Regions from separate parts of the Homo sapiens genome. Here regions 1 and 3 are each linked to region 2. The links come from fine-mapping of genetic effects on gene expression. A gene starts in region 2. Each other region holds a variant in brackets. All regions are shown on one strand. Distances are from middle to middle. Region 1 holds the start of ZNF655 (zinc finger protein 655). Region 2 holds the start of TMEM225B (transmembrane protein 225B). Region 3 overlaps KPNA7 (karyopherin subunit alpha 7).

Region 1 (8,185 bases), 37 kb after region 2:
GGAGCAGTGTCATCTGCTCACAGGGTTATGGTAAGGATTAAATGAGATATATACACATATCCTTTATATATATATATACACACACACACACACACACATATAAATGTCCTATGTCTGTGTGTGTGTATATACATATGTGTGTGTGTGTGTATACATACATATATATAGTACCCAATAACATATTGGCTGCTCAATAAATACTAAATAGCTGTGACAATGGAAAACATTCTGTGCAAAATAACTGTAGTCCTTCATGACATCAAGTTAAAAAAGCAGAGAGTATGTGCCAAACATTCCCAATCTACTGACCCAGTTAATATCAATTAGAATTTTAACAAGCATGCTTCTGAGGCCATCATCTAATAGGGCACCTGCCACACTTACCCATGTGAAAAGCAACTCGGTCCCCTTTATGGGTCTTAATCTACCACACTAAGTAACAGGTAACTTCCCTATGGATAGTGACCCAGAGGCAAATTGTTCATTCATCATCAATGGAGTATGTTCTTTTTTCAATTATGTGGTAACGAAAATTACTTATTACCGACTTCTTTACTCAGCTATTTGTACTCTGTATATTTACTGCTGCATAGTGGAAGCACTTAAGCAAAGGACCAACGTTCTAATGTCTGTGACAAATACAATCTGGAGGCCAGGCGCAGTGGCTCACAACCTGTAATCCCAGCACTTTGGGAGGCCGAGACAGGCGGATCACGAGGTCAGGAGATCGAGACCATCCTGGCTAAGATGGCAAAACCCCATCTCTACTAAAAATACGAAAAGATTAGCCAGGCATGGTGGCGAGCATCTGTAGTCCCAGCTACTTGGGAGGCTGAGGCAGGAGAATGGCATGAAGCCGGGAGGTGGAGCTTGCGGTGAGCAGAGATGGTGCCACTGCACTCCAGCCTGGGCAACAGAGCAAGACTCCGTCTCAAAAAAAAAAAAAGTCTTACAACCCTAAAAAGTTAAATTAATAAATGTATAAACTTAACCCAGTTATGCTGGAGGTTGCAATTTTTGTTAAAAATCAGACCTTGGCGATGACCTTGAGCAGCGGGACATAAATAATTCCCGCAAGCTTAGTGTTCCAATAATGGAACACTAGGCATAAATGGGTTAATTTTCAGATGAAGTCTGCTGAACCCAAAAATATGAAAATGATTTCCCAAGGATTGTAAAAATAACTGCTAAGGAGATGCTGCTAACTTGATCACAAAAGCAAGATGAGTAGAAGGCTTTCTTGCACTGTGCGTGTCTCTTGTATGTGTAAAAGTGTGTATGCATGTCGACTGCATGTCGAGTGTGCAGTGCAGAGATAAGAGAGGAAATGGGATAAAGTTCAGTCTATAGCATACTATGCTATTAGACTGCATTAAACTGCTACAAAGTTTCTTTACTCCAAAAAGTAGACAGGTTAACTGTTGGAAACTCTGTAATTATTAGATAAAATTAACAGTACTTTACAATTATATGTATGTCACTTTACAGTTTACAAAGTTATTAAGTAGATATTCAATTTGATGCCCTGAAATAAATTTAACTTCTTTGCCCTCCCTTCTCCCCTCCATCAAGGACAGAGTAAGGAACACTTAATCAGGAAAGGCAATATAATTGCATCAATCTGTACAGAACCACAAAGAATAAAGGGTAGGAAGGTAGGACCTTGAAGAGGGCCACAGGGACTTCAAGGAAGGAGGAAACCAGAATGTTAAACATGAGGGAAGCCCAGGGTTCACAGGAGAGTTAGGCACCATACGGGGCAGGTTGTGTTCGCCACATAAAAGGAGGGGCACACAGCATAAGTTTCACATTCTAAAATAATATGAAAAGACCATAACTGAAGAGCTGAATTTGGAATTTCTGGTTTTTCACAATACAAGTAGATGATGACCACCAACCATGGTTTCTGAATGAACTGGGTTCAAAACATATCTGGTTGCAACAGAGGGCTTCCTTGGACCCTAACATTTGAAATTAAACAGAGGTAATTTGAGGAGCTGCGATTTTACACAGTGGTGGCATCCTGGGGAGCTTCTATTCCATCAGTCAATTTTAATATCTCACAATCGTGGAAAAGGAGTTTCCGAGCAGGGACGAGCAATATCGATGGGAAGCCGATACTTGGGCCATCTCTTGGAGATTCCTGCTGTAAGGACGGCAAGTGTTTCTCCAGAGAAAGCACTTGCCTGGGTATGACTCAGGGCCGGGCAGGAATTCACACTATGAATCCGGGTGGTGGGAAGGCGGAGAAGTATGCCTACAAAGATTAAAGAGCCAGGAATGGAAAACACACTAAAAACCGTCCCAGTGGGCAGCCTGCCTCCCCACAAATAAGAAGACCTTGAATCCTGAGCATAATCAGGGAGACAAAGCAATGCCCTGGATGCCACCAGCATAGACAAAGCCAACGGAAAAAAAAAAAAGAAAAGAAAATGCATGATTCAGTATTTACACACACAAAAAGAAGAGTGCAGAAGCAAGCAAGAAACTAAAGAAAAAGGAGGCTGGGTGCGGTGGCTCATGCCTGTAATTCCAGCACTTTGGGAGGCCAAGGAAGGTGGATCACTTGAGGTCAAGAGTTCGAGATCAGCCTGACCAGCATGGTGAAACCCCGTCTCTACTAAAAATACAAAATTAGGCGGGCGTGGTGGCCCATGCCTGTAATCCCAGCTACTTGGGAGGCTGAGGCAGGAGAATCGCTTGAACCTGGAAGGCAGAGGTTGTAGTGAGTTGAGATTGCACCACTGCACTCCAGCCTGGGCAACAAGAGTGAAACTCCATCTAAAAATAAAATAAAATAAAAAATATAATATAATATAAAAAATAAACTAAAGAAAAAGGAACAATGCTCACACCAAGGGAGCTGCCGACAAACCCCACTGATGCTTCCCAGCAGCACTACAGCTTGGCTAATCCCAGCTTCCCACTGTACCTTTCAAAATGACAAGGGAGAGACATGAGTTAAGCATTGACCCCACCTCAGCATGGGGTAAACATCTGAGATTTCTGCTGCCCTGGGTGTGGTTACGTGGGATTACCATTCTGGGTGACTCACTGAAATGTACTCACAGTGAGTCATGCCTTCAAATGACATCTCAAGTTCTGCCTGCTTGGAGATACATCTGGGGATCTTAAGGGGTGAGGGACTACTCAACAAGAAGGAATTTAGCCTGTCTTTTTAAATAAACGGCATTTCTTTTTCCTAGAAAAATGGGAAATTCTTCAATTCTCTAATACAGGGACACTGAGATAACAAAGAGGAAAGTGTCTGGTTGGAGGTTGGGAGGCCACCCTGGGGTCTCTCCTACAAAAATGGAAAAGAAAAGAACGGTGAGAAATCAAGCAAAGCACAAGAAAGTTTCCCTTTGCTAAAAGGGAAAAGATGCCCCACAATGGCCATAAACATGAACTGGGGATAAGGAGGAGAATGTCTCTTCTTGGCACCCCCAAACAAACGTTAATTACCCCTCCCGGAGAAGACGATGTGAAAGATAAGGATTCAGAGGTTCTAAGTCCTGGAATCTAAGCCACACTCTACAGACCTTCTCAGAGACCTTATACTTAGGAAGAAACAAGAAAGTAAAGAAATTCAAATAGATAAACCGAATAATAAGGAAGTCCTTACCCAGTGAGACCACGTTCCCATAATTCTCTAACATCACT[T/A]CTCTGTAGAGGTCCCTCTGAACAGGGTCCAGGTATCCCCATTCCTCTCGAGTAAGGTGCACAGCCACATCCTCGAATGTCACAAACTCCTGAAATAACACATCCTGGCTGCTCTGAGGAATGAGAACACTGTAGCACCATGGCCAGAGAATGAAGATCATAGAGAGGGTATCCACTGTGTACTTACGTTGAGGAGGAGGGAGAACAGATTAGAACCTACGGAATAAAGCCCATAACCCTTAAACATCTAATAAGCACCCATCACACAACCATGGACAAAGAGAAAACAGAGTTTGCTCATGGCACTGGGGAGATGGGAAGTTGGTTTATGTGAAGTCCAGGTCTCCGAAGAGGATCAATTCCCAAACTGGAGTCTGCTATTGAAAAAAATTCCAGGCAAGGTCTACAGATGGGATGAGAGAGAGGCCACACTCCATCAGTAGCAATAGTCCCTGAGGAAAAGCAGAGGGTTCCTCAGCTCACCTGGTACCTGGCTGTCAAGAGCGCAGCTGCCTGGTCTCCTGGGCTTCCCTCACGGGGAAGAGCAGGCACCTGAGGAACAGGTGGAGCTGAGGGAGGAGAAAGGAGTGAAGAGTGAGAGCAGCCCTTTCCCAGGGCTCCCTTTCAGAGGAGGCCTCTCCAGCCCAAGGGGTGTCAGCAGGACCCTCCTCAATACTCTAGTAAAACCAATGAACATTTTTCAGGTATTGGGTGTGTCTACTCTGCTTCGTCTCAGTACTTGCATGCCTTATGCGTGTTTTGACCTGTGATACAGGATTTTCTTAGGAAAGCTTGTATTTCACTTTATCTTCATCACATGACAGTCCTCTTACAGAAGAGTAAGACTATACCTGTTTTGCAGATGGGCAAAGCAAAGCATAAAGACTTGTGGGGACTTGTCCTGGGCTAGGGTTATTTAGCAGACTTCTGACCCTTTCCAGGCACTGTTCTAGACACTTGATCAGCGTTTCTCTTGTGAATGGGTGCTGTCTCAACCAGTGTGTAAGGCCCCCAAGAACAAGAAAGGGTCATCTGTTTCCTCGAAATCTTTTCCACAGTCCCACAATCCCCCACAGCACTCTACACATTGTGGCACTTGATCTGTGTGGGTGACACACAAGTTATTTCAGGCACTAGAGTTAACCACAGGCAATCTAAGACACAGCTCTTATAAAACAAAGGAAGAAAAAGACCAACCTACCTATACGATACAGCAAAGTGTGACTGCGTAGTCAAAATACAGTATATATACATTCATACAGGCATTGTGTTCAACCAAGGAATTAAATGGTTGCTTCCTTGACCAAATTTAGTCTAGTCACAAAACACTGCAGTTACAACAGAATGGATGGCAGGTGACAAAGCAAAGAAAAACTAAGTGAAGGGAACAGGGGAAAGAAAGGTCCTGAACCTAAGAGGAAGTGAGAGCCAGGAAAGGACTGTGAGATGTGGCAAAAGCAGCATATCTTAGAAATTATTCTGGATGTGAGAACTGGGATGAAGTGAAGGTTGCCTGAAGGAAAAACCACCACAGCGAGTAAGCAGCCATCACTCTGCTTATTTGAGAAAGATGAGCTATCCTTAATAAAGGGGCTCAGACTAGGACTGAACTGAGTCACATCTGCCCCCTCTTTCATTCCTCCCTCTAGGGACCATGTTCTTATTCCAGTTCTTGGCCTCTCTCAAACCAGGCCCAGGAGCCCCCTCGGGAGCCCCTCCGCACTCCCACTCTCCCAGACGGAAGTGCTTTCTCTGCCTTACCCCCAGTGAGTCCCTGTTCCATGTCGGTGTCCTGCACAAACTGAGGCTCTGGGGACAGACACTCAGACTGGGTCTCCAAAGACTGAAACTGGACCCTTGGTGACCCTGCTGCTTCCTGGGCTGGTATTTCCTCCATCACTGCTCTGGAGGACAATGACCATCACTGCAAGGTAAGATTAAGAGAAATTACTGTAATAAGTTAAAGCATTTCATCATTTTATATCGTCAGGACTTTGCAAAGGATCTTACACACTATGGATATTCAATAAAAATTAGTTGATAATGATTAACCACCCTAAATAAGTAACAGAAAAATGGGGCCAGGCGCAGTGGCCTGTAATCCCAGCACTTTGGGAGGCTGAGGCGGGAAGATCACTTGAGGTCAGGAGTTCAAGACCAGCCTGATCAACATGGTGCAACTTCTTCTCTACTAAAAATACAAAAATTAGCCAGCGTGGTGGTGCGGGTCTGTAATCCCAGCTATTCGGGAGGCTGAGGCAGGAGAATTGCTTGAATACAGAAGGCATACGTGGCAGTGAGCCAAGATTGCACCACTGCACTCCAACCTGGGCAACACAGTGAGACTCCGTCCCAAAAAAAAAAAAAAGAAAAAAAAGAAAAAGAAATATGGATATGCTTCAGCTTTAAATACTTAAGAACCAAATCATAGAAGAGTCTCTAATTTGGAATTTGTGGCATTAAAAAAATTAACACGGTACAATTTAATAGTGTAAAGCTTTCTGTGGAAACTTTAAAATATTTAAAATTGGCCACGTGCGGTGGCTCAAGCCTGTAATCCCAACAGTTTGGGAGGCACAGACGGGTGGATCCCTTAAGCTCAGGAGTTCCAGACCGTCCTGGACAACATGGTGAAACCCCGTCCCTACAAAAAAAAAAAAAAAAAAAAAAATTAGGTGGCCCAGGCCTGTAGTTCCAGCTACTCCAAAGGCCAAGGCAGGAGAATCGCTTGAGCTTGGGAGGTAGAGGCTGCAGTGAGCTATGACTGCGCCACTGCATTCCAGCCTGTATGACAGCGTGACAGCCCACCTCAAATAAACAAAACAAAATATTTAAAATTTACAATCGTCTTTGGAGGCTCAAGTTGGTGCCCAGAGAAAAATGCTAGTTATGATTGCTCATTTTATTTTAATTTTGTTTTAGCAGAGATGGGAGTCTCGCTATGTTGCCCAGGCTGGACTCGAACGCCTGGCCTCAAGCGATCCTCCCACTTCGGCCTCCCAAAGTGCGGGGATTACGGCGTGAACCACCGTGACAGGCCCGCGTTTACGTAAATAAACTCATTTAAATAAATAAAACAGCAGGCCCCCTAGGAAATGTCTTGGTAACACCGTCAGCCCACTCCGATTTACTACACGGGCTTGGCGAATAAAACTCCACTTTTGGGGTCAGGCCCTTCGCTAACTCAGACCAGCTAGACCGGCCTTTTCCCGGAATCCTGAGAGCAACGCAGGTAAGAGCTGCGGTTCGAACAGGTTTGAGCGGCGTCCTTCAGGCCCAAGGACGCATGAGGGTGCCGTCCCCCTCCCACCACCCTCGCCCTGGGCCCCTGCCCGGCTCCCAGCTCGGTCCTCAGAAGGCCTTGCCCGGCGCTGCCCTCCTCCCACTTCCCTTTTAGGCCAAGGCAAAGTCCCAAAAGGACCAGTGAGGACATACAGACCAGCTCGCACCAGGGCACGGTCGCCGGCTCCTGACGGCGGGGCCCTCGGTCCGCGAGGTGAATGAACCAGGGCTGAAGAGAAACAGGCCCTCCTCGCACCCGGGCCTCCGCGCACTCTCGGGGAAGCGAACTACCGTCGGCCGCGGCCGGACGCCGCCTCCTTCTACTCCCGTGAAGGCAAAACAAGCTGCCACCCCGCTGCGACCCCAAAACGGCTTCCGGGTACTCACCGAGGGGAGGGGCGGGCCTGGCCGCTGTCCTGTCACCTACACACTCGCGCTCGGGGCCACCACAGCCTCTCCCGGGCCGCTGTAGACAGCCCCGAGGCCGGCGCTTCTCGGTGGCACTTCCGGCGACGGAGTGCAGGGTCCCGAATGAGGGCCCCCCCTCCTCCGCCCAGGCATGAGGGTCCCGGATGTGGGTGAGAGCCCCGGATGAGGGTCCCGGATGTGAGTGAGGGCCCCGGATGTGAGTGACGGCCCCGGATGAGGAACTCGGAGGAGGAGCTGGGCCCGCGCGTCCATGATTCGAAGGCTCGTTTTCGCAGCTTTTCCACGTCTTTTTCCGGTCCCACTGCCCTCCATGCTAACTCACTGGGCGTCTCTAGCCGTTATACCAACAATGACTGCGACCAGTGTTGGGAAAGCGCCCCCTGGGCCCCTCCCTGACGCCAGCCCATCCTTGAGACTCCCTGCAAGGAGGCGGCCCGACCCAGTGGGTGCGTGTCGTGGGGTGAGGAGGAATGGCCGACCTAATGGTCCCGCTTCCGTGAGTAGCACAGGGGTGCCTGCTCAGAGTGTAGTACAACGCTGACAAGTAGAAGGCGAGGATTGCGGGGCCTGGGTGAGATGGGACCCACTAAGTTGTGGGATCGAAATCTCAGTAGGTCCTTGGGGAAAGCGGGGACGGGAGGGGAGATGAGCAGATTGGAATAGAACCGAGAGAGACGGAGGAAACTGACAGTTGCGTCCCTGGTGGGAAGACTAAAATCTATGCAGAAACAGGGATAGGCAAAAGCATTGTGCACAAGCGGGACAGGCAGAGCGCCGGGACAGAAACCCTTAGGACATTCTGACACCTTGC
Region 2 (8,185 bases):
TGCCTGTCTGTAGTTCCCAGCTACTTGGGAGGATGAGGCAGGAGGAACTCTTGAGCCCAGGAGTTAGAGACTGCAGTGAGCTATGATCATGCCGCCGTACTCCAGCCTGGGCAACAAAGCAAGACCTTGTCTCTGAAAGAATAAAAATTTTCAAAAGATGTCATCTTTTGAATGAGTAGTTACACCGTGGTGGGTAAGTGCTGGCTGGTCTTGTCTCAGCTTCATCACTTCCTAGCTGTGTGATCTTGGGGAAGTTGCTCAGAGTCTCAGGACCTTGCTTTCCCCATCTGGAAAAGGAAGGATATAACACCTGCCTAAGGATAAGGAAGGATATATTATAACACCTGCCCAATGATAAGAATACAACACCTGCCACTGAGAGGACCAAATGAAATAACGCATACCAAAGTGTCCAACACAGTGCTGAGCACTCAGGTGCTTGGTTAAAGTTGGGAGGGCAGGGATGGAGGGCAGACTTCTAAAATTCAGATATCCCTGTGGGAGAAGGGGCTGGAGGCCACACCCAACTTCAGGACAAATTGTTTCAACGAATCTGCTTTCCCCTCTGTCTGTGCTGAGCCTGGCAGCTCTGAGGAATGAGAGTTATCCAGCAATGGGAAGGAAGGAAGCAGGGACGGTGATTGGAGCTGCAGGGAGGGTGGGCCTGGCCAGAGGCCTCCAGGTGGCACTGTGATGACCCTCGCTACCTGGCAGTGCAGAAAGGGGGCATCAGGTGAAAGGAAGATGTGACAAGGGAGGTGCACCCCAAGATGACAGTCTTTCTTTCCAAGTCCTACCCAAAGCCAGACCTGGGGACCCTTGCCTGTGCCAGGCTGGGCTTGGCAGCATCACGGTTTTCAAGCTGTGCCTGGGCAGTAGAGAGCACAAGGCCCTCGAAGTGAGCATGCTTTCCTCCCCTGCTCCCACACCCTGTGCAAACCTTGCCCAGTGCAGACACTGGGGCCTCTACCCAATCCCCATGCAGACCCTCACTGCAGCCAGGGAAGGGGGCGTCTTTGCCCATGCAGACACTTGCTGCAGCCAGGGAAGGGGGCGTCTCTGAGAGCTACCAATGGCTATGGCTGAACAAGCCTAATGGCAGAGGGCAGAGGTGTGGCTCCCTTCCTGTACCCCCCACACCCAAGTACCCTGGTTATAAACAGGTAAACACATGTTCATCTTCGATGCTGTCAGAGTGACTTGAAAATGTTTGTACTTTCTCTTCCTTTCTGACATTCTCTAGTTTCTCTTCTTCCCACTTGAAAAATTGAATTATTCCCTTCTTTCCTTATTATATTTTGTTTTTAGATACAGGGTCTCACTCTGTCACCCAGGCTAAACCTCCTGGGCACAAGTGATCCTCCCACCTCAGCCTCCTGAGTAGCTGGGACTACAGGTGCGTGCCACCACGCCCAGCTAATTTTTTAATTTTTTGTAGAGACAGGGGTCTAACTATGTTGCCCAGGGTGTCTTAAACTCCTGAGCTTAAGTGATCTTCCTGCCTTGGCCTCCCAAAGAGTTGGGATTACAGGCTTGAACCACCACACCCAGCCCTTCCCTCTCTTTAAATGTCCCCTTTCCATCTCCCATCCACTCTCCAGGTCATACAAGTCACCCCAACCTCAGGGCTTCCACTTCCTTCTATCTAAAATGATGAAGTCTGTTGGACCAGAGGGCATTGAGGCATCCTTCTAGTATTAGAACTCAATGGGAAGGAGTCATGGCTGCATCTTGATCCTGTCCTCTGTATAGATGGGAGTACACTGGGCATTCTCATTTGATAGGGGGCACCTCTTCCTGTCTACCCCATCTCCACCTGTATGTGACTAGAAGTGATCTCTGTCTCCTTTATTTTCTACCTTTTTTTCTCTCCTTCACCCAAACCCTAGCCTTGAGCTCATGCTGGTTCTTCCCTCTCCCCAACCCCACTTCCATCTCATCAGCCTTCCTCATCTTCTCAGTTTTCCCTTCATAAAGTTCCCCAACCTTCCAACCTTCCTGTCCCCACGCCTGCCACGTCTCCCTCCACACCTGGAACATCACCGTCATCCCCAGGCTCCTCTGGCCTCTGTACCTGGTGATTTGGTTTGGCTGTGTCCCCACCCAAATCTCACCTTGCATTGTAATAATCCCCATGTGTCAAGAGCAGGGCCAGGTGGAGATAATTGAATCACGGGGGCAGTTTCCCCCATACGGTTCTCGTGGTAGTGAATAAGTCTCACAAGATCTGATGGTTTTATAAGTGGAAGTTCCCCTGCTCAAGCTCTCTCCTGCCAGCCACCATGAAAGATGTGACTCTGCTCTTCATTCGCCTTCAGCCATGATTGTGAGGCCTCTGCAGCCATGTGGTGCGAGTCAATTAAACCTATTTCCTTTATAAGTTACCCAGTCTTGGGTATGTCTTTATTAGCAGCATGAGAACAGACTAATACACCTGGGTTCCTTCCTGGGGGCGGGGGTGCCTGTTCTGCTCCCCAGATTTTCCAAACCCCACTCCCCTGAAAAGTGCAGCTTGGTGCTGTCCACTCCACGCAGCCCTCCCAGCCACTCCCTCAGCAAAAATTCACTGTGCACTTACAGGTCGCCCCACTCCCAATGTAGGCCAATGGTGGGGATTCAGAGATGAAAAAAGGCAGGAACTCAGAGGCTCTTGGAACTGCTAGGGAGAGAGACACAGAAACACATCATGTGATGCAGTGCTTTTGTCTTCACAGCCCGGGGTTACTTTGGGGCCAGGTATACCCCAGGGCACTACCCCTTATCTGTCCCATTCCCACTGCCCCCTCCACTCTCCAGTGATGAGGACCTTGTCCTCCTTTCCCTGGGCACCAGTCCAGGTCCCTCCCTGAAGCAGCCCTTAGTGCCAGCACTGGACAAGGTTACATCTTCGGATACACAACTTCAGATCCGCACGGATATAGGCCAGACTGAAAGGTCATAGATATTTGAATATAAGAGGGGATTGGTAGATCCTTTTGTACAGAAGCAGAGATGGAGAGCTGGAGAGAGGGAATGACTGGTGGAGGATTCCACAGCCCATCAGTGCTGGCACAGGGACCAGAATACTGCATCACTGCCAGGACAGTCTCACCAGCCACCAATGGCCGGCAGTTCAATTCAGTGATTCCCAAATCTGGAATTCTGTGGATCCAGAGAATGCTTTCTTATAGGCATGTGCATGTGTGAGAAAGAGAGAGAGAATGGGGGAATATACGACTGCCAACTTTTTATTTTGCCAAGAGCATTAAAAACAAAGCAACTTATCTACTGTCACTGGTTTGGTTTTTATTCAAATTTTTGTTGTTGTTCTTTTTTGAGACAGGGTCTTGTGTCACCCAGGCTGGAGTGCAGTGGTGCATTCATGCCTCCTGGGCACAAGCGATCCTCCTGCCTCAGCCTCCCGAGTAGCTGGGACTACAGGTGTATGCCATTACACCTGGCTAATTTTTTTTTTGAGATGGGGTCTTGCTATGTTGCCCAGGCAACCCCTGGGCTCAAGTGATCCTCCCACCTTTACCTCCCAAAGTGCTGAAATTACAGGCATGAGGCCCCACGTCTGGCCAAATTATTATTTTTTAAAGGACCCATGGGCCGGGTGCGGTGGCTCACGCCTGTAATCCCAGCACTTTGGGAGGCCGAGGCAGGTGGATCACGAGATCAGGAGATCGAGACCATCCTAGCTAACACGGTGAAACCCCGTCTCTACTAAAAATACAAAAAAAAAAAAAAAAAAAAAAATTAGCCAGGCGTGGTGGGGGCGCCTGTAGTCCCAGCTACTCAGGAGGCTGAGGCAGGAGAATGGCGTGAACCCGGGAGGCGGAGCTTGCAGTGAGGCGAGATCGTGCCACTGCACTCCAGCCTGGGCGACACAGCCACAGCGAGACTCCGTCTCAAAAAACAGAAAGGACCCATAACACCAGGAGGTAAGAAAAGCTGTGTACCCCGTGGTGGTGCCTGGACCAGCGTCTGAGGACCACTGGCTTGGCAGGAGGTTCCTGGACCCTAGGCCCCCTTCAGCGCCTGAGCTGCAGCCCCGCACCTCCCAGGCCCTGGCACTTAACAGGAAAGTCGGCAGCTGCTCTGGGGATGAAGGAAGTGGGCGACCTGAAGGGCATCCTGGTTTGGAATGGGAAAGAGACCTTCCCTTCCCACTGTTTCCTCCGGTCATTTGTGGCAACTTGGACTGCACATTGACCCAGGGTAGGGTCAGAGGTTCCTTCCCGTTGACAACCGTCCTCGGCCCTTTCCCCTGAATGCCAGGACTCCGCCCTTCTGTGGCCCCAAAGCCATAGGGATATTTTCAAGACCCCAAGCTGGGCCCTAACCAGGCCATCCGCCCCCAGCCCCTGCCCCGGGCGTCCCACAGCCAGTTAGGCGATGTTCGGCCTTGGGTGGGTAGGGGGACTTCCCCACATCCTCTCCCAACCTGTGGGGCCACCTTGCTCTCCCCCATACTGGTCTCCCCTCTACCCTTCCCTCCACCTGCGGCACCGTCGTAGGCGGTTTCGCGTCCCAGAGCTGGGCTGCCCTCCAGGCGGGTCACGGTGGGACCCTCGCCCTCCACTCCAGGCTCCACCGCGCTCCTGGAGCTTCCGTTGGCCCCAGAGGCCCCGGCGGGGGGTTGCCCCGACCCGGGGGAGGAGCCCACTGAGCCTGGGCCTCTGAGCGGAGCTCCAGCTCCAGCTCTGCGGAGGAGACGCGGGCTCACCTCCCTACCTGCCGCCCCGGCCACCGCAAACCTGGCGGGTGGAGGGTGGGGAAACCAGGCCCTGGCGTCTGCCCACAGTACCGGCTTCGCTCACGGGTGTGTGGGGGCGGAGGAACAGAGAGCGGGAGGGATCTGAATTCAAATCCTAGCTCTGCCATTACCAGCGTGGGGACTTTGAATAAATTTCCTGTGTCTCCTTCCTGGGTCCTGGGCTTCTAATCTGTAAAATGGGAATAATAATAGTATTAATAATATGGTGTTAATAGTATTAACACTATTATATTAATGATATACTATTAACACTATTATATTAGTAATATAGTGTTGAGTGTTAACACTTATATTAATAATATAGCGTTAATAGCATTAACACTATTGTATTAATAATATAGGGTTACTATTAACACTGCTATATTAATAATACATGATTAACACTATTAATCATATAATAGTGTTAACACTATAATATTAACAATATAATATAGTGTTAACACTATTATAGTGTTAACACATATTATATTAATAACACTATTATATTAATAATAATTGTTAATAATATAGTGTTAACAGTATTATAATTATATTAATAATTAATAACACTCGTATATTAATATTATAATTAATAATAATAAAGTGTTAATAGTATTAACACTATTATATTAATGATAATAGTGTTAACACTATTAATAATGTAATAGTATCTACACTATAATAATAATATAGTGTTTCATAATATAGTGTTAGGCCGGGCGCGGTGGCTCACGCCTGTAATCCCAGTCCTTTGGGAGGCCAAGGCAGGCGGATCACGAGGTCAGAAGATCGAGACCATCCTGTCTAACACGGTGAAACCCCGTCTCTACTAAAAAATACAAAAAATTAGCCGGGCGTGGTGGGGGCGCCTGTAGTCCCAGTTACTCGGGAGACTGAGGCAGGAGAATGGTGTGAACCTGGGAGGCGGAGCTTGCAGTGAGCAGAGATGGCACCACTGCACTCCAGCCTGGGCGACAGAGCAAGACTCTGTCTCAAATAATAATAATAATATAGTGTTAACACTATTATATTAATAATATAGTGCTAACACCATTATATTAATAATATAGTGTTAATAGTATTAACATTATTATATTAATAATATAGTGTTAACACATATTAGTAATGTAGTGTTAACACTATCATATTAAAAATATAGTGTTAGTAGTATTAACTCTCATATTAATAACAGTGTTAACACTATTATATTACTAATATAGTGTCAATAGTATTAACATTATTATATTAATAGTAGCACACTGTGATATTACTAATATCTGTAATGTTAATGATATTCAGTGTTAGCACACTGTGGTATTACTAACATCTATGATATTCATAGTATTCAGTGTTAGCACACTGTGATATTACTAATATTTGTGACATTAATAATATCCAGCGTTAGCACACTGTTAACACACTGTGATATTACTAATATCTATATTATCTATCATATTAGTGATATCCAGTGTTAGCACACTGTATTAACACACTGTGATATTACTAATATCTGTGATATTAATAATATCCAGTGTTAGCACACTGTGCTATTACCAATATTTGTGACATTAATAATTTCCAATGTTGGCACACTGCAATGTTAATAATATCTATGATACTAAAAATATCCAGTGTTAGCACCCTGTGTTGTGTTAATAATGTCTATGATATTAATAATATCAAGTGTTAGCACCCTGTGATGTGTTAATAATAATATGATATTAATAAAATCTAGTATTAGCACCCTGTGACTTGCTAATAATAATATCCAGTGTTTGCACCCTGTGTTGTGTTAATATCAATGATATTAATAATATCCAGTGTTAGCACACCGTGATAATAATATCCAGTGTTAACACAGTGTTAGCACATTGTGATATTAATAATTTATATGATATTCATAATATCCAGTGTTAGCACACTGTGTTAGCAAAATGTGATATTAATATCTATGATCTTCATAGTGTCCAGTGTTAGCACACTGTGATATTAATATTATCTATGATATTCATAATATCCAGTGTTTGTTAGCACACTGTGTTATCATACCATATTATTCATAATATCCATGATATTAATGCTGATATCCAGTGTTAACACACTATGTTAACACACTGTGATACTATTCATAGTATCTGTGATATTATTACTAACACACATTAGATATTAATACTAATATCCAGTGTTAACACACTGTTATATTACTCAGAATATTCATGATATTACTACTAATGTCCAGTGTTAACACACTGTGATATTTTTCATGATATCACTAATATCCAGTGTTGACACACTGTGTTAACACACTGTGATATTATTCCTAATATCCACAATATTACTACTGATATCCACTGTTGTTAACACACGGTGATATTATTCATAATATCCAGTGTATTACTATTGATATCCAGGGTGTTAATACAATTAATATCCATGATATTATGAATAATATCACCCTGTGATATCCAGGATGATATCCTGATACTGATCCACTACTGATACCCAAGATGTTAACACATTGTGTTAACACCCTGTGATATTATTCATAATGTCTATGATGTTACTACTGATATCCAGGGTGTGAACACACTGTGTTAGCACCCTGTGATATTATTCATAATATCCATGATATTACTACTGACATCCAGGGTGATAATGCAGTGTTAACACACTGTGTTATGTTTGTAACATCATCGATATCACTACTGACATCCAGTGTTTCACACTGTGATATTAATGAAATATCGCTGTTACATTTATAATATACAGTGTTTCCACACTGTGCTATGTATGAAATATAGTATCCAGTGTTTCCACACTGTGCTATGAATGAAATATTATACTATCCAGTGTTTTCATACCGTGCTATGAATGAAATATTATAATATCCGGTGTTTCCAAACTGTGCAATGAATGAAATATTATACTATGCAGTGTTTCCAAACTGTGCTATGAATGAAATAATATTCAGTGTTTCCACACTGTGCTATGAATCAAATATTATAATATCCAGTGTTTCCACACTATGCTACGAATGAAGTATTATAATATTCAGTGTTTCCACACAGGGATATGAATGAAATATTATATTACGCAGTGTTTCCGCACTGTGCTATGAATGAAATATTAAAATATCCAGTGTTTCCAAACAGGGATATGAATGAAGTATTAAAATATCCAGTGTTTCCACATAGGGATATGAATGAAATACTAAAATATCCAGTGTTTCCACAAAGGGATATAAATGAAATATCGCTGTGATATTTATAATATCCACTGTTCCCACACAGGAATAAAGTTGAAATCCTGCTGTGATATTTATAATATCCAGCGTTTCCACACAGAGATATAAATGAGATATAGCTGTGATATATATAATATCCAGTGTTTCCACATAGGGCTATAAATGAAATATCGATGATATTTATAATATCCACTGTTTATACA
Region 3 (8,185 bases), 430 kb after region 2:
AGTAACCATCATTTTGCTTTCTGTCTCTATGAATTTGACTATTCTAGGGACCTCATGAGTGGAATTGTACAGTATTTGTCCTTTTGTGACTGATATATTTCCTCTTGGCATACCATCTTCAAGATTCATCCGTGTTGTAGCATGTCAGGATTGCTTTCCTTTTTAAGGCTAACACTCCATTGAATGTATATGCTGCATTATATATATTCATTTACCTGTCAATCGACATGTGAGTTTCTTCTACCATTTTGCTATGGTGAATACACTGCTATGAACATGGGTGTGTAAGCCTGTTAGAGTCCCTGCTTCCAATTTTTTTTTGTTTGTAAAGACAGGGTCCTGCTCTGTCACCCAGGCTGGAAGGCAATGGCCGCAATGGTTGCTCACTGTAGCCTTGACTTCCCTGGGCTCAAGCAATCCTCCCACCTCAGGCTCCCAAGTAGCTGGGACTACAGGCATGCACCACCATGCCGGCAGCTAACTTTTGTATTTTTTTTGTAGAGATGGGGTTTCACCATGTTGCCTAGGTTGGTCTAAAACTCCTGAGCTCAAGCAAGCCACCCGTCTCGGCCTCCCAAAGTGCCGGAATTACAGGTCTGTGCCACCGCACCTGGCCCAATTCTTTGGAGTATATACCTAGAGTGGAATTGCTAGATTACGTGGTAATTCCATTTTGAATTTTTGAAGAACTACCACGCTCTTTTCCACAGTAGATATACCATTTCACATCCCTACCAACAATGCATGAGGATTCCAATTTCTCCACACCCTTGCCGACACTTGTTATTTTCTAGGTGTTTTGGTAATAGCTAATCTCATGGGTATAAAGTGGTATCTCATTGTGGTTTGATTTGCACTTATATCAGAAATTTTTCTTTTCTTTCTTTCTTTCTTTCTTTTTTTTTTTTTTTGAGACGTAGTCTCGCTCAGCTGCCCAGGCTGGAGTGCAGTGGCGCGATCTTGGCTCACTGCAACCTCCACCTCCTGGGTTCACGTCATTCTCCTGCCTCAGCCTCCCAAGTAGCTGGGATTACAGGCGCCCACCACCATGTCCGGCTAATTTTTTGTACTTTTAGTAGAGACGGGGTTTCACCGTGTTAGCCAGGATGGTCTTGATCTCCTGACCTCGTGATCCGCCTGCCTCGGGCCTCCCAAAGTGCTGGGATTACAGGCGTGAGCCACCACGCCCAGCAGAAATTTTTCATATGAGGAAGGCAACCTCACATTTATTTCATGACCAGATCAACATGGGGCTAGGAGTTTACAGAGTGACACTTCTCTTAGGTGTCAAAGGTGACTTACCAGCAAAATAAAGGACCATACAATCAATATGACCAGGTGGATGGTGTGGTTAGCTGGGGCAGTTAGTCTTGATTTGGGACCAAGATGATGCTCTCGGCTGGGAGCAGTGGTTCATGTCTGTAATCTCAGCACTTTGGGAGGCTGAGGCAGATGGATCACGAGGTTAGGAGTTCAAGACCAGCCTGGCCAACATGGCGAAACCCTGTCTCTACTAAAAATACAAAATTAGTTGGGTGTGGTGGTTTGTGCCCGTAATCCCAGCTACTCAGGAGGCTGAGGCAGGAGAATAGCTTGAACCCCAGAGCAGAGGTTGCAGTGAGCCAAGATGGTGCCACTGTATTCCAGCCTGGGCAACAGAGCAAAACTCCATCTCCAAAATAAATAATAAATAAATAAATAAATAAATAAATAAATAAATAAAGCTCTCAAGCCAGGTGTGGTAGCTCATGCCTATAATTGCAGCACTTTGGGAAGCTAAGACAGGTGGATTGCTTGAGTCCAGGAGCTCCGAGACCAGCCTGGGCAACACAGTGAGAGCCCATATCTACAAAAAATACAAAAATTAGCCAGGTGTAATGGCATGTGCCTGTAATCCCAGTTACTCGGGAGGCTACAGTGGGAGGATTGCTTGAGTTGTGATTGTGCCACTGCTCTCCAACCTGGGCAATAGCACGAGACTGTCTTAAAATAGAAAAAAAATGCTCTCAAAGGAGACCAGACCTAGAATGGTGATAATGGTGATAAGCATTTTCCAGGTTAATGGTTCCTATGAAAACCTCATAAATAAGAAGCTCAGCTGGGTGCAGTGGCTCACACCTGTAATCCCAGCACTTTGGGGGAGGCCAAGGCGGGTGGATCACCTGAGGTCAGGAGTTCGAGACCAGCCTGGCCAACATGGTGAAACTCCATCTCTACTAAAAATACAAAAATTAGCTGGGTGTGGTGACGGGTGCTCATAATCCCAGCTACTCAGGAGGCTGAGGCAGCAGAATCACTTGAACCCAGAAAGCAGAGGTTGTAGTGAGCTGCAATCATGCCACTGTACTCCAGCCTGGGCGACAGAGTAAGACTCCATCTCAAAAAAAAAAAATAATAAATAAGAGACCTCTTTTAAAGGGGGTTTGATCCCTGGGGCTTGATCCAAGAACTCCAGGGTAAAGATTTCTGGACTAGAAGTAGTAACTATACCTATCATTTGCTTACTCATTGTCAGGACGGTGTTCTATGTCTATCAAAACTGCATTTAAAAACAAGCTACTCACAAAAGGACAAATACAATGCGATTCCACTTAGATTTGGTACCTGCAGTCATCAAATCTGTAGAGACAAAGTAGAATGGTGGTTGCCAGGTGCTGGGTGGAGGAGGGAATGAGGAGTGATTAAATACAGTGATCCCAACGTTTTTGACACTAGGGACCAGTTTTTGTGAAAGACAAATTTTCCACAGGCTGGGGGGTGAGGGGATGGTTTCGGGATGATTCAAGAGCATTACATTTATTGTGCACTTTATATTACTACATGGTAATATATAATGAAATAATTATACAGCTCATCGTAATGCAGAATCAGTGGGAACCCTGAGATCTTTTCCTGCAACTAGACGATCCCATCTGGGGGTGATGGGAGACAGTTGACAGATCATCAGGCACTAGATTCTCATAAGGAGCATGCAGCCTGGTTCCCTGGCATGCGCAGTTCACAATAGGGTTTGTGCTGCTATGAGAATCTAATGCTGCTGCTGGTCTGACAGGGAGGCAGAGCTCAGGTGGGAATGCGAGTGATGGGGAGTGGCTGTAAATACAGATGAAGCTTCGCTTGCTGGCCTGCTGCTCACCTTCTGCTGTGTGGCCCAGTTCCTAATAGGCCACGGATGCGGGGTTGGGGACCCCTGATGCAATAGGTACAAAGCTTCAGTTGTGCAAGATGAAAAAGTTCTAGAGGTGGGTGG[T/GTGGT]GGTGATGGTTGCGCAACAATGCGAATGTACTTAATTGCTACTAAGCTACCTGCTTAAACATGGTTAAGAGGGTCAATTTTGTTACAAGGTGCATCTTGCCAAATGTGCAGTGATAATGTGCTGAGAATCCTGGAGGTATAACAGTGTCTATTCTCTCCTGAAGGAAGAAGATGAGAGCCAAACTTTACTGAGCCAAGTCATAGACCAAGATTATGAATTTATAGATTATGAATGCTTAGCAAAAAAATAGCCAAGCTCCCTACCTCCTAAACCAACAACCCAGTGCTAAAGGATAACTTCTTTAAGAAGCAGCAGTCCTCTATCTTAGTGTAACCCAAATGTGAAGCTTTTAAAACTTGACATTAATAAAATGTTCAACACTTTCACGTTTCTCTATCTGAACTTCAGATAAACGACTTGCATCTTAAAACCATGTGGAATTCATCTCCTAAGAACATTTGTTTAGGCTGGGTGTGGTGGCTCACACCTGTAATCCCAGCACTTTGGGAGGCCAAGGTGGGTGGATCACCTGAGGTCAGGAGTTTGAGACCAGCCTGGCCAACACAGTGAAACTCCGTCTCTATTAAAAATACAAAAAATTAGCCAGGCATGGTGACGCATGCCTGTAATTCCAGCTATTTGGGAGGCTGAGGCAGGAAAATTGCTTGAACCCAGGAGGGCGGAGGTTGCAGTGAACTGAGATGGAGCCATTGTACTCCAGCCTGGGCAACAAGAGTGAAACTCCTTCTCAAAAAAAATAATAAAAAATAAAGAACATTTGTTTAGTAATTGCCTTTTAAAAGGTCTTAAAGCAAAACCTTCAAGACAGAGTAGAATGGTCTTATAGTTATCCGGACAGACTTTTTCTTTTTCTTTTTTTTTTTTTTTTTTTTTTGAGATGGAGTTTCGGTCTTGTCACCCAGGCTGGAGTGCAGTGATGTGATCTAGGCTCACTGCAACCTCCGTCTCCCAGGTTCCAGTGATTTTCCTGCCTCTCCTGCCAAATAGCTGGGACTATAGGTGCCTGCCACCATGCTGGGCTAATTTCTGTATTTTTGGTAGAGACAGGGTTTCACCATGTTGACCAGGCTGGTCTCAAACTCATGACCTCAGGTGATCCACATGTCTCAGCCTCCTAAAGTGCTGGGATTACAGGCGTGAGCCAACATGCCTGGTCTCTACACAGACTTCGACTTGCAGATACAATATCATTGGTTCTTAGTGCTGCAGGGACAGTGTTACTGGCCTTCTTTCCTCTGGCAATTAATATCCTGACACTGACAAGATCTAAGATAATTTTCTCTAGAAACTCAATCTCTCTTATTCTTCCTAGAAAGAAAGAGAGTGCGTGTGTGTTTCTATATTTCAAGGCAGCACCACCACATGCAGCTAACCTTTTAAAGAATTCTGTAGAGATGGGGTCTTACTATGGTCAGGTTAGTCTTGAACTCCTGGCCTCAAATGGTCCTCCCACTTCAGCCTCCCAAAGTGCTGGGATTACAGACATAAGCAACCGCACCTGGCCTACATATTATTTTTGAACCATGACTTTCTTGTATACTTAATTTTTATAACTTAAATGAACTTTGATACAATGTACATATTTTACAGAGCTATAGATATTTAAAGCAAAGGAGGACCCATGCCTCTTCCACCCCATCCCCAGAGGCCAGAACTTTCTACTCTTTGGTCTGTTTATTCTAGTCTATGCTTTTGTAATTCTAAACATTATGCTCATGCTACATCTAAAGACGATGTTCGAATTTACAGAAGAGATAGCCATTTTTTTATACCTCCCTTTCTTCGCATCGTAGATATCTAATTTTTGTTAGCTTGATGTCCAGATTTTATCATAATGATGTAAATTATATTCAGAAGTGTGTTTTCCTTAGTATTAATCCACATCTTCACTCATATGCTTTGTTTTCCTTGGGTTTACCTCATATCAAATTCTTACAGCCTGTGTAAACCTCCTGCTGAATGTAATACGTCAGTAATCTACCAACATGCTTGTCATCCACACCCACTGGAGAGCTCTGTCATGCTCCAGCCTGGAATAGTTGTCCTCATCCTCTGGTACACGTCTATTGTCCTGGGATCGGCTTTTACCATCATTGTGGGGGCTCCACTCACTTTTCCTGGGTCAGTGTCCCTGTTTGCAGGATCTCACACCTGCCTGTGCTTGTTTTCCCCTTTATTTTAGGGACAAGGTCTTACTCTGTCGCCCAGGCTGGAGTGCAGTGGAACCATCACAGCTCAGCTCAGGGCAGCCTTGCTAAAGCAATCCTCCCGCCTCAGCCTCTTGAGTAGCTGGGTCTACAGATGTGTGCCACTATGCCCAGCTAATTGTTTAATTAATTTGGCTTTTAAAATTTTAATTAATTTGGCTTTGGGAAGCCAAGGCGAGAGGATTGCTTGAGCCAGGGAGTTGGAGGCTGCAGTGAGCTATGATGGTGCCACTGCACTCCAGCCTGGGCTATGAAGTGAGACCCCATCTCCAAAACAAACGATCGCATGAGGAGGTAGGCATGGGATCCAGGAAACAGGGAAGCTGACCTTGAATTCCTGGGATCAAGCGATCCTGCTGCCTTGGCTTCTCAAAGTGTTGGGATTACAGGCGTGAGCCACTGAGACCCACTGGCTTTTAATATGTATCTTCTGAGAGAAGGTGCATGGGAGGTTAAATTTCAGACACTGCTCATCCAAAAACATGTACTTTATTTTTTATTTTTATTTTTGAGACAGAGTCTTGCTCTGTTACCCAGACTGGAGTGCAGTGGCACGATCTTGGCTCACTGCAACCTCCACCTCCCGGGTTCAAGCGATTCTCCTGCCTCAGCCTCCCGAGTAGCTGGGATCACGGGCGCCCGCGAACACGCCCAGCTAATTTTTGTATTTTTTTTATTAGTAGAGACGGGGTTTCACCATGTTGAACAGGCTAGTCTTGAACTCCTGACCTCAGTGGGATTGCAGGTGTGAGCCACCGCACCTGGCCTTTGAAAACATGGACTTTGTTTTGACTCCTGGTTGACAATCCAGCTGCAGACAAGTGTTCTAGACTGGAAACTATGACCTTCAGAATGTTGCAAGCATCGATCATTATCTTCTAGTTTTCAGTGTTGGGTTCAAAGTCTTCTACTCTGATTGCCAATTATTTTGTGCATGACTCTCTTCCCCTGTCTCAACTCTACTGACTGAAATTTGTAGGTTGTGTCTCCAGTATTCTTAAATGTGCTGTCCTGAATAGAAACCTATTTTCTGTACATCCAAGTATCAGCCTTGCAGTCTAGAATTGTCCTTTTAATTTTTAAAAAACAGCTTGGAACAGTGGCTCACGCCTATAATTCCAGCACTTTGGGAGGCTGAGGTGGGAGGACCCCTTGAGTCCAGGAGTTTGAGACCAGCCTGGGCAACATAGCAAGACCCCATCTCTAAAAAGAAAAAGAAAAAAATAGAATTATCTCCCCTGCCACCACCATTTTTTTTTCCCACTGAAACGGATCCTCTCATTTTCTTGTCCCATTCTCTATTTTCCATCTTTATTTTTTACTTTCTGGGGTATTCTACTTTATCTCTTCTTCCAGGCTTTTCATTTCTGCAGTCACTTAATTCGAGACACTTTGTTTTCACAGGCTTCCCTTTTCAAGCCTCCTTCTTCATTAGCGCAAGATCCTATCTGTGCTATCGACCTAGCTTTGTTTATGCATTGATTCTTGGGGGGGTGTTTGTTGTTAGTTTGGTGTGCCTATGGCAAAGGCTTCCATCAGATGTCTGATGTCCTTGGATCTCTGCTTGTAATAGAAAGGTCCTCAGGCTGTGAGCGGGGCCTGTCATTGGTGGATATCTGCTGGGTGACCCCACAGAAACCTGGCCATTCCAACAAGTGATCCCAACGATCAGAGCTGCAGATTTTTTTTTGAGACAGTCTTGTTCTGTCACCCAGGCTGGAGTACAGTGGCACAATCTCTGCTCACTGCAACCTCCGCCTCCTGGGTTCAAGTGACTTCTCCTGCCTCAGCCTCCCAAGTAGCTGGGATTACAGGTACAAGCCACCATGCCCGGCTAATTTTTGTATTTTTAGTAGAGACAGGGTTTCACCATGTTGACCAGGATGGTCTTGAATCCCTGACCTGAAGTGATCCGCCCACCTCGGCCTCCCAAAGTGCTGGGATTACAGGCGTGAGCCACTGCGCCTGGCCCAGAGCTGCAGATCTTTTTTCATGGGCTGGTTAGTTTTCCTAAAGAGGAGTCCTTCAACCATTCATTTGTGAGACTTATGCTTCCCTCCTTCCATTCTCTGGGCAGGGCACAGGAACAAGGTCAGGTTATTTATCTATTTTTGAGATGGAATCATGCTCTGTCGCCCAGGCTGGAGTGCAGTGGTGCAATCTCAGCTCACTGCAACCTCCATTCCCAGGTTCAAGCGATTCTCCTGTCGGCCTCCTGAGTGGCTGAGATTACAGGCGTGCCCCACCATGCCTGGCTAATTTTTGTATTTTTAGTACAGATAGGGTTTCACCATGTTGGCCAGGCTGGTCTTGAACTCCTGACCTCAAGTGATCTGCCCACCTCGGCCTCCCAAAGTGTTGGGATTACAGGCGTGAGCCACTGTACCCAGCCAAGGTCAGGTTGTTCAGTAAGCAAAATACTCATTTTTCTCAGTTTTGCTCCCTCAGATGCTGTCCTCCCCAAGTCCAGAGTCCTTACACCTACCTTCTCAGGGACCTGCCAAGCTTTCAGCCTGGGGGCTAAAATTCCAATAAAATTGTTTCAGTTTACATTATTTTAAAAAATTATTTATTTGAGACAGGGAGTCTCTCTGTCGCCAGGCTGGAGTGAAGTGGCGCGATCTCAGCTCACTGCAACCGCCGCCTCCCGGGTAGCTAGGATTACAGGCGTGTGCCACCACGGCCAGGTAATTTTTGTATTTTTGG

What was found.
Region 1: its variant is fine-mapped to the expression of TMEM225B in whole blood (TOPMed, PIP above 0.99). The same link has a PIP of 0.9 or more in blood mononuclear cells.
Region 3: its variant is fine-mapped to the expression of TMEM225B in whole blood (TOPMed, PIP 0.96).

The regions. Positions count from the first base shown.
Region 1 is chr7:99,557,935-99,566,119 of GRCh38, reverse strand. ZNF655 (zinc finger protein 655) reads right to left here and starts at 7,478. Exons shown (of 3, transcript NM_138494.3): 1 at 7,333-7,478; 2 at 5,425-5,587. The coding sequence starts at 5,560. It also overlaps a transcript of FAM200A not described here. RefSeq lists enhancers at 7,404-7,673, 7,704-7,833. The variant T/A (reference allele first, on the strand shown) is at 3,664.
Region 2 is chr7:99,594,679-99,602,863 of GRCh38, reverse strand. It overlaps TMEM225B (transmembrane protein 225B), which reads right to left and starts at 4,597. Exons shown (of 6, transcript NM_001195541.3): 1 at 4,483-4,597; 2 at 2,579-2,659.
Region 3 is chr7:99,169,024-99,177,208 of GRCh38, reverse strand. It overlaps KPNA7 (karyopherin subunit alpha 7), which reads left to right. Exons shown (of 11, transcript NM_001145715.3): 11 at 3,415-3,637. The coding sequence ends at 3,501. Among named protein-coding and RNA genes, the nearest start is that of SMURF1, 29 kb to the right of the region's middle. The variant T/GTGGT (reference allele first, on the strand shown) is at 3,251.